Linked DNA regions of Homo sapiens: region 2 is linked to region 1. The links come from fine-mapping of genetic effects on gene expression. A gene starts in region 1. The other region holds a variant in brackets. All regions are shown on one strand. Distances are from middle to middle.

What was found. PIP is the estimated chance that this variant, and not a neighbour inherited with it, causes the effect. A credible set is the group of variants that fine-mapping cannot tell apart.
Region 2: its variant is the best candidate, but not a certain one, in a credible set for the expression of RNH1 in whole blood (TOPMed, PIP 0.76).

What each region holds. Positions count from the first base shown.
Region 1 is chr11:505,970-508,872 of GRCh38, forward strand. RNH1 (ribonuclease/angiogenin inhibitor 1) reads right to left here and starts at 1,273. Exons shown (of 11, transcript NM_203387.3): 1 at 1,144-1,273. It also overlaps a transcript of LRRC56 not described here. RefSeq lists an enhancer at 542-711 and a cis regulatory region at 627.
Region 2 is chr11:463,073-465,975 of GRCh38, forward strand. All of the region lies in intron 2 of PTDSS2 (phosphatidylserine synthase 2), which reads left to right. Among named protein-coding and RNA genes, the nearest start is that of PTDSS2, 14 kb to the left of the region's middle. The variant C/A (reference allele first, on the strand shown) is at 1,388.

The DNA of each region.
Region 1 (2,903 bases):
CCTGAGTTCAAGCCATTCTCCTACCTCAACCTCCCAAGTAGCTGGGATTATAGGCGCCTGCCACCACGCCCGGCTAATTTTGTATTTTTAGTAGAGACGGGTTTTCACCATGTTGGCCAGGCTGTTCTCGAACTCCTGACCTCAGGTGATCCGCCTGCCTCTGACTGCCCGGCCCAGTGTAACTGTTAACGGCAACATCGTGTGCAGTCTCCGGCTTGCATTCGGTTTAGTCAGCCAATCGCTAAGACGACACTTGAGACCGTTTTCAGATCTTTAGGCTTTCCACCATCCTAGAAGGGGGCCTGCCTGGTTCTAAGGCCCTTCTGAAACACTGCCAAACTGTCCTCGGGAAACGGTGCAGAAGTCCTCTGGTTTCCCCCAAGGCGCGTGGGCACCTTGGCTGGAACCTCGCCCAGTAACACGACGTGCCTGGGGCCCCTTCGTCATTTCCGCCAACCCCGGTGACAACCCTGACACCGGCCCCTAAGTGCCATTCCAGTTATGTTGCTCTCCTCCCCGCAGCCCCAGGCGGCAGCTTCGCGGCCCGGCGTCCGGTCCCCCGGTGGTCCCGGAGCGAAGCTCCGCAATGGAGAGCGGAGGACCCTCCCTCCCCGACCTCGCACGACCAAGACCGCCCACCTTTCCCCCAACGCCCGGCTGTGGGAGCCGTTCGAGTCTTCTCCGCCAGGGCGCTCCTTCCCGGGAGGCCGCTTCTTTGGGGGAATAAGGTCAAGGATTACGGGATTTGGGGAAGCAAGCTCGGCTGGGCCAGGATTGCTTGCGTAGCTCGCTGGAATCTAAGGCACTAGAGGGCTTGACGGCCACGTGAGGACGAACCACGCAGGCGCAGCCCCGCGCCCCGGGCAAGGACTTCCGGCAAGCCCCAAAGGGGAGCGTGCACCGCGATGACGTCCTCAAGGCGCGCCACGTCCGCCCGGCGGCGCAGCTGCCCAGCGCAACCTCGGCCCCGCCTCGATAGCCCCGGACCCCTGCCCCGCCCGACCCCGCCCCGCCACGGGAGCGCGCCACTCGCCCGCGCAGCAACGGCCTCAATAGCGCCAGGCCCGCGTCTACAAGAAGCCCGACCAAGGCCGGCGTGGGCGAGGCCTGGCTAGACGCTGACGCACCGCTGGAGCTACTGACCTCGGGACGACTGGCGGACGGTCGCGGGCCTGGAGACCCAGAGCGAGACGGCCTACTTCGTTCTCGAGCCAGCAGAACGGGTTGAACGTGTCGACAACCCCACCCGCCAGTCAGCGGCGCGGGCGTGTTCGAGCCGGCTCGTGGGCGTGGTCAGGTGCGTGGGCGGGGACTACTGGGCGGGGCTCGGCGCGGGGGCGGGGCCTGGCGGGAGTAGTCTCGGGGTCGGGGCGGGGCCCGGCGGGCGGGGCTCGGCTAAGCACAGTCTTGGCGCAGCGGCGGGGCCTGGTGGGGCGTGGCTCGGTGAGGGAGGTCTCGCTTGGGGGCGTGGTCTCCCCCAGTAGGCGGGGCTTGGTGCCGGGGGCGGGGTCTGGCGGGCGCGGGCGCGTGTGCGTGTTGTGGGCCTCGCACTGGCACGCAAGTCTCAGCAATTCCTGAGAATCCTCGGAGGAAGAGGCCGGGGCCCGGTGCGGCAGCGCCTTGGGGGCGGAATCGCAGGCGCGGGTCGGGCCTTGCTGGGGCGCGGGGCGCGGCCCCCGGAGAAAGCGGCCGCCTCGGGACAGGAGGGACCCGGGAGAAACCCCCCTGGGGCGGCTCCGCATGTCGGGGTCGCGACTCTAGGCGACCTTGGTAGAGGGGCTCGTTTGCGCCGAGCTCGCGACCCCCGAGGGAGCCACGGCCCCGTGAACCACGCTGCCCGTCCTGGCCACTGGCTGCCGCCTTTGTTTCGTGGGACCCCAGCCCGCAAGGCCTGCGGAGCCGCGGCCTCGTCCCGAGTGTTCTGAGCGCGGTCCGAGCTGCTCCTGCGTCCACTCTGCTGCCGACACCCGAGCGTCGCCTGGAGCCCTGGCACTGAGGGGCGCAGGCCGAGTTCCAGACCAGCCTGGGAAACGCAAAGCGACCCCACCTCCACAAAAGTGGGTTTTCTTTAAGTTTTTGACTAGTCCGCAATTCACAGAATTGACATTTTGGCAGATGAAGATTGCAAGTAAGGAAACTAACGGTATCTCAGATTTGTTCTTTAGCAATTTGCTAAACCTCTCCTCTGACTGCCTTTATTAGGTATTTGTTTTCGAGACAGGGTCTCACTCCACTGCTTAGGCTGTACTGCAGTGGCGCGATCCCAGCTCGCTGCAGCCTCCACCTCCCGGACTCCAGTGATCCTCCCGCCTCAGCCTCCCAAGTAGCTGGTACCACAGGCGCCAGCACGCCTGGCTAATTGTTGTATTTTATGTAGAGAAGAGGTCTCCCTGTGTTGCCCAGCCTGGTCTTGAATTGGGCTCAAGTGATCCTCCTGCTTCAGCCTCCCATATCGCTGGAATTACTGGCATAAGCCACTACACCCGGCCTGATCATCTTTAAAGAAGGTGGTTCTGGCCGGGCGTGGTGGCTCACACCTGTAACCCCAACACTTTGGGAGACCGAGAAGGGTGGATCACCTGAGGTCAGGAGTTCAAGACCAGCCTGGCCAACGTGGTGAAACCCCATCTCTACTAAAAATACAAAAATTAGCCAGGCATGGTGGTGGGCACCTGTAATTCCAGCTACTTGGGAGGCTGAGGCAGGAGAATCGCTTGAACACGGGAAGCAGAGGTTGCAGCGAGCCTAGACCACACCATTGCACTCCAGTTCGGGCAACAAGATGAAACTCTGGCTGGGCGCGGTGGCTCACACCTGTAATTCCAACACTTTGGGAGGCCAAGGCAGGCAGATCACCTGAGGTCAGGAGTTCAAGACCAGCCTGGCCAAGATGATGAAACCCC
Region 2 (2,903 bases), 43 kb before region 1:
AGGACAATCGCATGAACCTAGGAGGTAGAGCTTGCAGTGAGCTGAGATCGCACTACTGCACTCCACCTGCCGAAAAAGCGAGACTCCGTCTCAAAAAAAAAAAAAGAAAAGAAAAGAAAATACCTTCTAGAAATTAGGCTTAATTTTATTTTTTATTTATTTTATTTTTTTTTGAGATGGAGTCTCGCTCTGTACCCCAGGCTGGAGTGCAGTGGTGTGATCTCGGCTCACCGCAAGCTCCGTCTCCCGGGTTCACGCCATTCTCCTGCCTCAGCCTCCCGAGTAGCTGGGAATACAGGGCCCACCACCATGCCCAGACAGTTTTTGTATTTTTAGTGGAGACGGGGTTTCACCGTGTTAGCCAGGTTGGAATTTTTTTTTTTTTTTTGGTCAATGTTGACCAGGTTGGCCTCGAACGTGTAGCCTCGCCTCCCCAAGCGCCAGAACAAACAGCCTGAGCCACTGCAGCTCCCAGCCTTATTTTTTTGTTTTCAGACAGACTCTCGCTCTGTTGTCCAGGCTGGAGTGCAGTGGCACAATCCTGGTTCGCTGCAGGCTCCACCTCCCGGGTTCCCGCCATTCTCCTGCCTCAGCCTCCCGAGTAGCTGGGACTACAGGTGCCCGCCACCATGCCCGGTTAATTTTTTGTATTTTTAGTAGAGACGGGGTTTCACCGTGTTAGCCAGGATGGTCTCGATCTCCTGACTTCGTGATCCGCCCGCCTCAGCCTCCCAAAGTGCTGGGATTACAGGCATGAGCCACCATGCCTGGCCAGCCTTATTTTTAAAAATTAATATTTATGTTATTAAAGTTAAAAAGTTATAAAACTAGTGTGTCTTTATTCAGCTTGCTGTCATTGTTCTTTTTATGGATCTAACAGGTTCCCCACCTTAGGGGATGATTTTCTTTTTCTTTTTTTTTTCTTTTTTTGGAGACAGGGTCGTGCTCTGTTGCCCAGGCTGGAGTGCAGTGGCGTGATGGCCCACTGCAACCTTCACCTCCCAGGTTCAATCAGTTCTTGTGCCTCATCCTCTGTGGTAGCTGGGACTATAGCCGTGCACCGCCACGCCCCACTAATTTTTTTATATTTTGGTAGAGACAGGTTTCACCATGTTGCCCAGGCTGGTTTTGAACTCCTGAGCACAGACAGTACACCCGCCTCAGCCTCCCAAATTGCTAGGATTACAGGCGTGAGCCACTGCGCCCGGCCCCGTTTTGCTTTTCTTGAGTCAACGTTATTGACCTATAATTTACTATAATCTGTGTCTGATTCACGCGTACGGCTGATGAGTTTTAACAGACTCAGAGCCCCGTGTGCCCACCACTGCATGGGGGTGCGAAAGTGTTCACTGTTCCCTGCGCTCAGAGTGCCTCACCCCGGCTCGGG[C/A]AGTGCGGAGGCATCTCCCCTGCGCTCAGAGTGCCTCACCCCGGCTCGGGCAGTGCCAGTGCATCTGCCTGGGTGAGAGCAGGGTCTGTGCTGCCGGCCCCGGCTTCCTGTGAACGCAGTTGCTCCTCCGGCCTGGCCTCTCCCGCTGGAGGGCAGCTTCGCGGCATCCTTGCTGTGCCTGCCGGTGGGCTCACTGGGGAGCTTCCGTTGCGTGGACACGGCACCGTTCACTGATCTGCCTGTATGGGGGTGACCCTGGGGGAGAGTCCAGCTTTCCTCACCAGTCCATTACATTTTTATCCCATTTTAAACTTAGTAAATTAAACCTCTTCACACATTTTACTCAATAAAATACATGTAACATATATAAATGTAATACACTTAAAATATAAATATCCTTACTTGTAATACATATAAAACATAATGCATATAAATATACTCACAGTGCTGAAGAATAACAAAGTTGGACACAGAAACTACACAATTTCAAGACTTCCTGTCAAAAATGCACCGAAATACCGAGCCCAGAAACAGGCGCGCACGACTGCAGGCAGCCGATCCTTGACAAAGGAACAAAGGCAAGTCCATGGCGAAGGGATGGCCTTTTCAACACTGGCGCTAGAGCAACAGAACATCCACGTGCAAATCTAGACACAGACCTGACACTTCTCACAAAACCTAATTCTAAATGGATTCTAGATAAGCCTAAATGTGAAATGAGAAGCTATAAAACTTCTCTTTTTGTTTTTGAGACAGGGTCTTGCTCTGTCACCCACACTGGAGTGCAGTGGCGCAGTCACAGCTCACTGTAGCCTCCAACTCCTGGCCTCCAGCAATCCTCCTGCCTCAGCCTCCCAAGGAGCTAGGACTACCGGTGTGCACCACCACACCCAGCTACTTTTTAAAATTTTTTGTAGAGATAAAGTCTCACTGTGTTGCCCAGGCTGGTCTCAAACCCCTGCTTTGGCCTCCCAAACTGCTGGGATTACAGATGTGAGCTATCATGCCCAGGCATAATTATAAAACATCTGAGCTATCATGCTCAGCCACAATTATAAAACATCTTGGAGAAATCACAGGAGAAAGTATAGTGACCTTGGGTTTGGTGATAATAAAATACCAGTAGCACAATCCATGAAAATAAAAACTTGATCAATTGGACTTCATTACAATTAAAATTGTCTGCTGGGTGTGGTGGTTCATGCCCTTAATCCTAGCACTTTGGAAGGCCAATCTAGGAGGATTGCTTGAGGTCACAAGTTTGAGACCAGCCTGGGCAACATAGTGAGGACCACCCCCCCCCCATCTCTACTAAAAATTAGGAAAAGATAAATTGGCTAATTGTGGTAGTACATGCCTGTGGTTCCAGGTACTCAGGAGACCGAGGCGAGAGGATTGCTTGAACCCAGGAGGTCTAGGCTGCAGTGAGCTATGGTAGCACCACTGCACTCCAGCCTAGGCGACAGAGTGAGACCTTGAAAAAATTAAAATTTCTGCTTTGTAAAAGACACTGTTA